Homo sapiens: one gene and its partners. The protein of the gene in region 3 interacts with the protein of the main gene of each other region in a pairwise test. Each region holds a gene or a part of one and is shown on either strand. Other genes may lie near its edges.

Region 1 (3,725 bases), on a different chromosome or scaffold from region 3:
AATCCGTGGTCCAGGCACAGTGGCTCACACCTGTAATCCCAGCACTTTGGAGGCCAAGGCGGGAGGATCACTTGAGGTCAGGAGTTCAAGACCAGCCTGAGCAACATTGCACACCTCGTGTTTTGCAATGCCGAAATACAAAAAATTAGCTTGGCATGGTGGCACGTGCCTGTAGTCTCAGCTACTTGGGAGGCTGAGGTGGGAGGATTGATTGAGCCTTGGAGGCATAGGTTGCAGTGAGCCGAATTCATGCCACTGCACTCTAGCCTGGGCAATAGAGTGAGACCCTGCCTCAAAAAAAAAAAAAAAAGAATCTAAGGGTGGGACCTGGGTATCCATGTTTTTTTAAAACTCTTCAGGTAATTTCAGTCAGGTTTTGACAATGCTAACCAGAGCTTCTAAAACTTTAATGTGCATAGGAATCACCTAGGGGTTCTTGTTAAAACAGTTAAAGTTCAGATTCTGATTGAGGATGTCTGGGGGTGGTCTGAGATTCTGTGTTCTTTGTTTGTTTGTTTTGCAAGCTTCCAGGTGATGCAGATACTGCTGCTGATCTTTGCACCACACTTTGATTCATGAGGCTGTACACTGTGCTGTCCTTAATGTTTCAAACACACCCCTTACCATTACTAGTCAAATGAGGGCAGAGGTTCCCCCAGAGCCTTTCTGTAATAATATCATCAAAACCTTGCTGCTTTGATCTTTAGATCCCACAAAAGTTCACTCTGAAAATTCTTCCCATATGCTCTCTCCTCTTATCATGTACTCACTGGTAAGCTAGGTTTAGATTCTGGAGTGAGCAGTGAGGTGCAATCAAAGTAATAAGGAAGAAAGTAGCTAGCTTGTTTCTCTGCCCAACTCACCCTGGGGGTTGGAGGAGACTCTGGCTTCCTTTTCTGTTTTTAAAAATTGTTCTATGGCCTCCAGGAATAGATAATTATGTTCTCATTCTCAAAATTGTAACCACACTACCCCCTACCACCAGTTCCCTCTTAAACATGTGCCTGCTTGTCTCTAGGGTCAGAACATATCCTGGGATATGGCGGTAGTCCTGAAAGCAACTCAGGAGGCACCTGCTGCTTCAACCCTTGGCAGCTACTCATTACCAGGGACTCTGGCCAAGAGTGAGATACTGGAGACTCATGGGACCATGAACTTTCTAGGTATGGTTCAGTTCCCTGATTCTGAATCTGACCATTGGGGTTTCTCAAAATCTTTTCAGAGACTGGTGGGCATCCAGTCTCCTAGGTTGACCAACAGAGTACTGAGGTATTGAAAGTGTCCAGGAAAGCTGGAAAGAGGAATGCTGAAATGCCTGTGCATTTGTCATGGGAAGTGGCTTATTTTGCACACAGGCTCAAGACACTAGACAAACATAGGTGTTGTGCTGAAACCTGATCAACACCAATATGGTACCAGGTTCAAGAGGCTGAAGAAGAGACCCAGAGCCAGCAAACAACATAGAATTTTACTAGGTGTTTATGTACAGGGTAGACAGTCTAGAGGCAGTGGACTGGGCACGGGAGAACCACATGGCCCAGTGGCACAGGCTGGACAGGAGAGCTGCAACTGCTTGCAAAAGGCATGCGGTTTATGTCGCATTTTCACTTAACACCCTCTCCCTAATGACCTCCACCTGGCAGCCTTAATTTAACCCAAAACAAGGGGCCTCAATCCCCTTTAAGGCCCGCATTCCACTGAAAGGGGTGGGGAATGGATAAGGAATGGATCTCCAGGTTGGCCACTTCTGGATTCCTTTGCTTGGAACTCCAAACTATATTCAGGTGTGTCTGCCATACAGGATCATTCTCAGGGTATGCTTAAGTTGTTGCCATCAGGTGTATTTACCATACAATAGGTGAATTCCAAACTCACTTTTTAGTGATATTTATTGTTCAATGAGTTTCATCTCTGTGCACACATGTAGGCACATGTCCTTTTTATACGCTTTGTAGTTAGCATAGGTTGGTGAGCCTGCAAGAGATGCTAGCCGAGGTAGGAACAGTCAACTTTTGTGGTGATTTTGAGCAAATGCCCTGGAGATGTTCTGTTTTCATAGATCTTTGTGCAAATTATAGAGGATTTTGAGCAGCTGTGTTAACCATAATGATGTTCAAAACTAGGTCTTCGTGAAGGGTACTGATGGCTTATCAACTTGTTCTCTCTAAGCTAGGACTAGAGAAAGGGTAGTATGTTCTAAAGATCTCACTGGCAGTGGCAGAAGCTTGCCTGTGGAGGAGTGACATATAAGTGAGGGTCAAGAATGCAGTAGCCATGAGTCCTGTGTTTCAAAGCACTTACTGGCTGATTGCCAAGCCCTATTCTTTTTATGAGTCTGCCAGATATTGAATATTTTGAACCCACTCTCCTCCCTAACCAGTTCCTCAGGCATCTGGGGACCAAGTCACTTTCTTAAACCAGTGCTATGGGGAAGACAAGGATCTCCACCTAGATTTTCTTGTCTCATATTTAATTATTCCCAAACTCTTAGCAGCTTCTGTTCCCCACTTTCTGCTTTGTGTTCCATTCTCTCTGGTGCATTCGCGTGCATGTCACTTATTTTCTGTCTCTGAGCTTTATCAGCCATTCATAGTCTTAACCCCAACAGCTGCACCTCATCAGGAATGGGCTCCCTTTTCCTACTTTGCCTCTTACCTCAAGACCATGTTCATACCCAAGACTTAGTATTTTGTGCTGCCAGCTATTTCCATGGCGATGGCAGGAACACTGCCAACACTATTTCCATGGCGATGTCAGCAGGCGATGGTGGGAACACTGAGCTCTATGTGTGAGAGATATCTGAGTGGGGTTGCTGCCCTGCCTGTAATAACTCTGTGACCTTGAGTAAGTCCCTTCTCTCTCTGGACCTCCATTTCCTGTTCTACAAATTGGGTGTGTTCATTAAGTACAGGATTTGTTGGCGGCCTCCTTCCTATGTGTCAGGCAGCGTGATAGGTGCTGGAGATACAGAAATGAATAAGACACAACCTTGCTCTTTTTTTAGCTGAAGGAGAACAGTTTCATCTTCATGATGAAATTGTATAATATACATGAAAGTGCTTTGGAAATTGTGATGTGTTACTGGGTTTTTAATGTCTGAGCAAGTTTTAACTGTAGTTTTCATATTTTAATTAATGTTGAATTTATTAAAGTTTATTCATTTAAAAACCAATTTTTAAGCCATTAAGCATAACTTTTTACTTCATCCATACATCTAGAAATATTTGTATAAAAGTGAGAACATTTGTATTTTTTCTTTAACTTATGTTCAGTTAAGCTTCAAATTTTACAGATTAAATTTTTTAAACATTTTGGCCGGGCGCAGTGGCTCAAGCCTGTAATCCTAGCACTTTGGGAGGCGGAGGCGGGTGAATCACCTGATATCAGGAGTTCGAGACCAGCCTGGCCAACATGGTGAAACCCTGTCTCTACTAAAAATTCAAAAATTAGCCAGGCATGGTGGTGCGTGCCTATAGTCCCAGCTACTTGGGAAGCTGAAGCAGGAGAATCGCTTGAACCCGGGAGACAGAGGTTGCAGTGAGCCAAGATTGCACCACTGCACTCCAGCCTGGGCAATAGAGCAAGACTCTGTCTAAAAAAATAAATTAATTAAAAATTTTAAACATTTAATTCTACCTGCTTATCAAATTTCTTTATATAAAACATAATTACAAATTTGATATCTTTAGTTCTTTAAAACATTCCAAACACCTAACTGGGCAGAC
Region 2 (3,825 bases), on a different chromosome or scaffold from region 3:
AAGAAGAAAAAGAGAAAGAAAGAGAGAGAGAGAAGGAGTGAGAGAGGGAGGGAGGGAGGGAGGGAGGGAGGAAGGAAGGAAGGAAGGAAGGAAGGAAAGGAAGGAAGGAAGGAAGGAAGGAAGGAAAGGAAGGAAGGAAGGAAGGAAGGAAGGAAGGAAGGAAGGAAGGAAAAGAAACAGCAAAAAAAGAAAGAGGGAGGATGGGAGGGAGGGAAAAAGTAAAAATGATTCTGTATCAGCTGGTATATACCAACACCCTTCCCTGCCCCATGTCTTCACAGCTGTGTGGCAAGTGAAGACTAATGGATCCAGGCTTCCTGATGCTTCTATTTATCATTATTCACTTAGGAAGGGTGGGAAAAGAAATACTAATTACACACTTACCAATGGAATACTTTTACAAGGATCAAAATTTCTCACTGCGGCCATGAAAAAGAATGAGAGCTGGCGGCCATCATGCTTAGCAAAGTAATGCAGGAACAGAAAACCAAATATCACATGTTCTCACTTGCAAGTGGGAGCTAAATAAAGAGATCACCTGGACACTAGGAGGGGAACAACAGACACTGGAACCTACTTGAAGGTGGAGGGTGGGAAGAGGGAGAGAATGAGAAAAAATACCTATTGGATACTATTACCTGGGTGATGAAATAATCTGTACACCAAACCCCCACGACAAGCAATTCACTTATATAACAAACCCGCACATGTACTCCTGAACCTAAAAGTTAAAAGAAAAAAAAATATATACTAAAATGAAAACAATTCTCACTGTAACAATATTATCCCCTCGTAATTATTATATTCCTAAGTTTTAGGCACTTTTACATCCTGCTCGCTGCCCCCAGCTCTCTTAACACAGCATCCAGGACATAGTGGGCGCTTATAAATACTGATGGCATTAAACTGAGCGCTTATGATAGCATATTTAGAGCAGTGCTTTTCAAACGTCTAGGTGCATGTGAATCCCTGGGGACACCGTTAAAATGCAGATTCAGAGTTAGAAAGTCTGGTTGGAGCCTGAGATTGGGCATTTCCACCGAGTTCCCATATGATGCTTGTCTATGTTCTGTATTTTTCAAGGTCTCAGAAAATGAGACCTCCCTATCCATATACAAATATAAGTCACACAAACTGTGATAATTTAATGAAAGTTTACAAAGAGCATAGAAGTAGATGTTTCCTCTTTTCCCCTGCCCTCCCAATAAAGGGAACAAATTAGATGCGAGGGTTCAATGGAAAGAGTTGCAACAGCATCCAGGCGCTCGCTCTCCTCCGGTCTTCCTGAGACAGGGAAAGGGGTAATGAGAGGAAGGAGGAAAGTGTCCAGGAGCTCCCACGCTGCTGTTCTTCCATTTCCAGCTTTTAAAGAGCACCCGCCCCTTCGAACCACCGAGGTCATGGGCGAACACACCGGAGCGCAGCACCGCGCCCCCCCGCACACACCGCCCGCCTCCGCGCCCTTGCCCAGACCGAGGCGGCCGACGCGCCTGCGTGCGCGCTAGGTATAAATAGGTCCCAGGAGGCAGCCACTGGGCAGAACTGGGCTACGGGCGCCGCGGGCCATGGCGGGCGAGAACCACCAGTGGCAGGGCAGCATCCTCTACAACATGCTTATGAGCGCGAAGCAAACGCGCGCGGCTCCTGAGGCTCCAGAGACGCGGCTGGTGGATCAGTGCTGGGGCTGTTCGTGCGGCGATGAGCCCGGGGTGGGCAGAGAGGGGCTGCTGGGCGGGCGGAACGTGGCGCTCCTGTACCGCTGCTGCTTTTGCGGTAAAGACCACCCACGGCAGGGCAGCATCCTCTACAGCATGCTGACGAGCGCAAAGCAAACGTACGCGGCACCGAAGGCGCCCGAGGCGACGCTGGGTCCGTGCTGGGGCTGTTCGTGCGGCTCTGATCCCGGGGTGGGCAGAGCGGGGCTTCCGGGTGGGCGGCCCGTGGCACTCCTGTACCGCTGCTGCTTTTGTGGTGAAGACCACCCGCGGCAGGGCAGCATCCTCTACAGCTTGCTCACTAGCTCAAAGCAAACGCACGTGGCTCCGGCAGCGCCCGAGGCACGGCCAGGGGGCGCGTGGTGGGACCGCTCCTACTTCGCGCAGAGGCCAGGGGGTAAAGAGGCGCTACCAGGCGGGCGGGCCACGGCGCTTCTGTACCGCTGCTGCTTTTGCGGTGAAGACCACCCGCAGCAGGGCAGCACCCTCTACTGCGTGCCCACGAGCACAAATCAAGCGCAGGCGGCTCCGGAGGAGCGGCCGAGGGCCCCCTGGTGGGACACCTCCTCTGGTGCGCTGCGGCCGGTGGCGCTCAAGAGTCCACAGGTGGTCTGCGAGGCAGCCTCAGCGGGCCTGTTGAAGACGCTGCGCTTCGTCAAGTACTTGCCCTGCTTCCAGGTGCTGCCCCTGGACCAGCAGCTGGTGCTGGTGCGCAACTGCTGGGCGTCCCTGCTCATGCTTGAGCTGGCCCAGGACCGCTTGCAGTTCGAGACTGTGGAAGTCTCGGAGCCCAGCATGCTGCAGAAGATCCTCACCACCAGGCGGCGGGAGACCGGGGGCAACGAGCCACTGCCCGTGCCCACGCTGCAGCACCATTTGGCACCGCCGGCGGAGGCCAGGAAGGTGCCCTCCGCCTCCCAGGTCCAAGCCATCAAGTGCTTTCTTTCCAAATGCTGGAGTCTGAACATCAGTACCAAGGAGTACGCCTACCTCAAGGGGACCGTGCTCTTTAACCCGGGTAAGGGTACTGGCCTTAGGCGCCGGCTTTTCCCAGCTCACAAAAGCATCGGGCAGTGCCTATCTAGGGGCGCGGGCAGTAACGAGTTTTCAGTGATCAGGAGAGTGTCGGGGCAAAGGTGAAGAAATCGTGACTAACTCAGCAGAGTTGGGGTGGGGAGCTCCAGGAACCACTTCTGCTGGGTGGGCTGCTATCAGAAACTCAGCCAAGAGGAGGGGAGTTGTTTGTTTAGGTTTGTACTTGGCTCTCTACACATTTCTTACCATAGAAAAGTTTGTGCCTTCATGGGAAATGGTTATTCTTTCTTCTTTAGCTTTCTTTTAAGTCCAGAGCATATCTTTTTCTAAAAAAAGTTTTTGCTCACTGAAGATTCTGCAACATCGATTTCTGAAACCCCATTCTGAAATTTACTAGAACCTTTTTTGGGGGGAGGAAATCTATTAAGGCTAGCAAAAAAGGAAACATTTGTTAAAGGGTCCCATAGAGAGACTATTCCCTAGGGACACACAAGACACTAGATGTAGTGTTTCATGGGCCTGCCTCTGAATGGTTATTTGTATGGTCCTAAGCATCTGGACTATCCCTTCCTCCAAATCTCTGTGAATAATATCAGGTTGGCAAAGGGATAGGGAAAAAAGACACATTAGGGACTGAGAGCAGGAGCACTGTATTTTAGAATTCAAAGAGACTTTAGAGACCTGCTAATCAACCCCCTTTGCTCTGTAGCCTCCCCCCACCCCATTTTACTGAGTAGGTAGATGTGTCCCAAGGTCCCAAGTAAATGGTTGGTGTGTTGTGGCACCTGAGGGTCCTGTCTTCTGGGCCCAGTGGGATATTGGCTGCACTAAACTTTCAGGTTGTCTGTTGGGTGCTGGACACACTGTCCCACAGAGTGCAACCAAATCACTGGAGGAACGTCTCCCTGGACAGCCAGGCACCTTGTCTTGGGTGTTTCTCACTATTAGAATCATCTTCAACCAGCGTCCTTTCAAAATGATTGAAGTGGGAACAAAATTTTCCAGGCAACTTGAGTTGGGATAGTTTTTATAATGCTCCTTTTGTATCTTTTTTCCCTGGTGCTGGAATCTCTGA
Region 3 (3,500 bases):
GTCTCAAAAAAAAAAAAAAAAAAAAAGGTGGGTGGGGGCTTATACTATGTGTGCTGCTTGGCACTGTTTTTTTCACTTAAAATATATTGCAGGTTTTTTTTCACGTAAGTATCTGAAGAAAGACTTCCTTTTTTTTTTTTTATTTTTTATTTCTTTGCTTTTTTGAGACAGGGTCTTGCTCTGTTGCCCAGGCTGGAGTGCAGTGGTGAGATCAGGGCTCACTGCAGCCTCCATCTCCTGGGCTCAAGCCATCCTCCCACCTCAGCCTCCTGAGTAGCTGGGACTACAGGCGTGTGCAACCACATCTGGCTAGCTTCTGTATGTTTTGTGAAGATGGGGTCCCACTATGTGGCCCAGGTTGGTCTTGAACACCTGGGGTCAAGTAGTCCTCTTGCCTTAGCCTCCTAAAGTGCTGGGATGACAGGCCTGAGCCCTGCGCCCGGCCAGCCTCCTGTGCGAGGTTGTGGGGGGACTCTGTCGTGGAACCCAGTACGTCTTCGTGTGCTGGCTTGTTTGTTGGCTCTGTAGTTAACGGGCTGCCCCACGTGGACAGGCACTGGGTTGTCTGTGTCTCTGTGTGCAGGCAGAGGCTGCTGCATGTGCATCTGTGCACATGGCTGCCAGGAGGGGCTGTGCTCAGGGGGAGCTGGGGCAAAGGCTGGTGGCACTGGGGGGCTTGGGTGTAGTGTGGAGGCGTGAGAGCCAGGTGGCTGGGGTGCAGTCTGCGGGAGCTCGGGGGTCTCTTGGCCTCCGTGTGTCCTAGTGTCTTTGTTGGTGAGATGGGACAGTGACAGCACACCCTCACAGTTGCTGGGGGCTGACAAATGTCAGGTCTGAGGACAGTTGCTGGCCCACTATGGGGCCAGTTCCCCTTCTCTACAGTCACCCTGCTCGTCTTCCACCGACTGGGTGCTCAGGACAGTGGCGTGGTGGATCCGCCTGTACATCCTGTGCTCCAGCGTCCTGCAGGCCACAGCTGTGTCCAGCCCTGACCCCGACTGCCCCTCCCGCCACCTCCATTTTATAGATGAGGAAACCGAGGCCCAAGGGCTTAGGGAACCCTGCTCTGAAGCACACAGTAGGGCTGCTGGGCTCAGACCCTCCCTCCCTGTGCTGAGCTGCCCTCCTCCTGCCGCAAGCCCCCCACGCCCCAAGCCCACCCTGCTCACTGGCCTCTGCCTGAGTTCCCCCCATGGTGTGGGAGTGTGGGGCAACCTAGCTTTTCCCCGGCACCCAGTTCTTTCACTTCCACTGGCGTCCTGCAGGGACAGCTCAGGGACCATGCAGGCCCGGGTGGGCGTGGAGGCTCACCTAGCTCGGTGGTGAACAGCTGGCACGTCTCTGGGTTGCGGACGGTAAAGGCCACGTAGACCTCAGGAGCCCGCTGGTGCTCCCGGCAGGCAGCCAGCCTCCGCAGGACCCCGACCAGCGACATGATGGCTTCTGGGCAATACAGCACATCTATGGTGAAAGCTTCAGGTTACTGAAAGGGACCAGTGGACAGGTCCAGGTCATGCTGACGTCAGCAGCAGGGCGAGGCCAGAGAGGCAGCGGTCATATGAGACTAGTAGATGCCATTTGACCATTTGGGCCATTAGATGGAAAGGCAATTACTTGGGTGAAAAAGGAGAACCCTTAGTAGAGAAAGCTGCAAAAGACCGAAGCAAAAGAAAAAAATCTCCAGACTCACTGGTGTTCCTTAAAAAACCAGCTCTGGTTCTTGGCCTATCTAGAGGGCTTTGAATGACACAAAGCCTGACCCTGCCATGAACTTCATGTTTCAGGCATCTGCTGATTTGTCTGCTGGCTTGCAGGGGTGGGCTTGTGTCCCTGGCCACCGCTGGACCTGTGGGTTTCAGGGCTGGGACCTAGGACCACAGGCAGAGCTCTGTTCCACCAGAGAGGGGACTGAGTGTGCTGGCAGGGGTGAGGGGTTTTCGGTGGCCCAGCCAAACACCACCTTCTCTCAAGGGCCCTGTCTTCGTCCCAGAAGTGGTTGTTTTCCTCCTGTGGTCTCTGAAGGACACAGGGCATGGCTCTGGGACAGAGCCATGTGGTAACGACTGGAACGGGAGTATGCCTGTCTCCAAAAAGAGGGCTGTGGGTTGAAGGTCACCTTAAGAGGCACCCCTGTCCTGTGATGTCACCCTGGAGGCCCAGAGTAACTCTTCTGGAAGCCCCATCATGTCCATGCCCGACAGCGTCCATTGTTCCCTTTTCCCAGAGCCAAGAGCTGGGTAGAGCTGCAAGGACACCACCTGCACAGGGTGCCCGGGGCTGGGCATTACCTGCTGCAATGACAACATCTGGCTGGAAGGCAGAGAGCTGATGGACCGTCGCGACGTCCCAGTCCAGCTGGGCCACTGTCACCCTGGGGCTGTCTAACTTGGCAGTGATGTCTGCCTCTAATGAGAGGCCATTGAGAAGGACATTCCCTCGGAGCTGCTCAAGGACCCGGCTGTGACAGTCGCTGAAGATGTATGCCCGGGGGCGGCACATCTTGCAGATGGCCAGGCCTGTGAGGCCAGCACCACTGCCAAGCTCTAGGACAGTCCTGGCGGGAGGAAAGGGGACCGTGTCTGCGACTGCACCAGGGTAAGCCTGCCTCGGTGCCCTGCCCTGCGCCCCGAGGTCACCTGTTAGTGAAGACTGCCGGGTTCTCGATGGCCCATTCTGCAAGGTAGAGGGCGGCGTCCCATGTGACCAGGCCTGTGGTACCGTAGGAGATGATGGCCGTGCTCTCGGAGAGTGTGACCGAGCCTCCCGAGGGCTGCACCAAGAGAAGGCGAGAGAGTCAGTCCAGCGATCAGAAGGCAAGTGGCTTAGAAGACAAGTAGCCCCACCACATGGCTGAATAAACCATGACAGGACCAATCGCCACTCAGCAATGAGAAGCAGCTAACTGTTGGCATGCCAACAGCTTTCACGGGCCTCAAGGGTGTCACGCGGTGTGAAAGACACTCATCTCAGGCCACACAGGATTCCATTCATCGAACCTTCCTGAGACAACGGAATTCTGGCGATGGAACACATGTCAGTGGTGGCCAGGGGACAGGTGTGGCTATGAAGGGGTGGCTGCCTTGTGATGATTCAATATGCTGTTTTTCCTTTGTGGTTTTCTGTATCTATGTTTTATCTTATTTTTTTTTGAGCTCTGTCACCCAGGCTGGAGTCAGTGGCACGATCTTGGCTCACTGCAACCTCTGCCTCCTGGGTTCAAGCAATTCTCCTGCCTCAGCCGCCCAGGTAGCTGCGAATACAGGCGTGTGCCACCATGTCCGGCTACTTTTTGTACTTTTTTTTGAGACAGAGATTTGCTCTCGTTGCCCAGGCTGGAGTGCAATAGCATGATCTTGGCTCACTACAACCTCCACCTCCTGGGTTGAAGAGATTCTCCTGCCTCAGCCTCCCTAGTAGCTGGGATTACAGGTGCCCACTACCACACCCCGCTAATTTTTGTATTTTTAGTAAAGATGGAGTTTCACCATGTTGGCCAGGCT

What was found.
Region 1: the proteins of EEF2KMT (region 3) and ZNF35 interact in binary tests that used the Homo sapiens proteins (3 or more experiments, as listed by UniProt).
Region 2: the proteins of EEF2KMT (region 3) and NR0B1 interact in binary tests that used the Homo sapiens proteins (3 or more experiments, as listed by UniProt).

Annotation. Positions count from the first base shown.
Region 1 is NC_000003.12:44,651,539-44,655,263, forward strand, and holds part of ZNF35 (zinc finger protein 35), read left to right. Parts: intron 1-1,018; coding exon 1,019-1,163; intron 1,164-3,725. UniProt on the Homo sapiens protein: May be involved in transcriptional regulation. Involved in cell differentiation and/or proliferation.
Region 2 is NC_000023.11:30,307,104-30,310,928, reverse strand, and holds the start of NR0B1 (nuclear receptor subfamily 0 group B member 1), read left to right. Parts: upstream 1-1,538; 5' UTR 1,539-1,565; coding exon 1,566-2,733; intron 2,734-3,825. UniProt on the Homo sapiens protein: Nuclear receptor that lacks a DNA-binding domain and acts as a corepressor that inhibits the transcriptional activity of other nuclear receptors through heterodimeric interactions.
Region 3 is NC_000016.10:5,087,796-5,091,295, forward strand, and holds part of EEF2KMT (protein-lysine N-methyltransferase EEF2KMT), read right to left. Parts: intron 2,771-3,500; coding exon 2,637-2,770; intron 2,555-2,636; coding exon 2,289-2,554; intron 1,462-2,288; coding exon 1,312-1,461; intron 1-1,311. UniProt on the Homo sapiens protein: Catalyzes the trimethylation of eukaryotic elongation factor 2 (EEF2) on 'Lys-525'.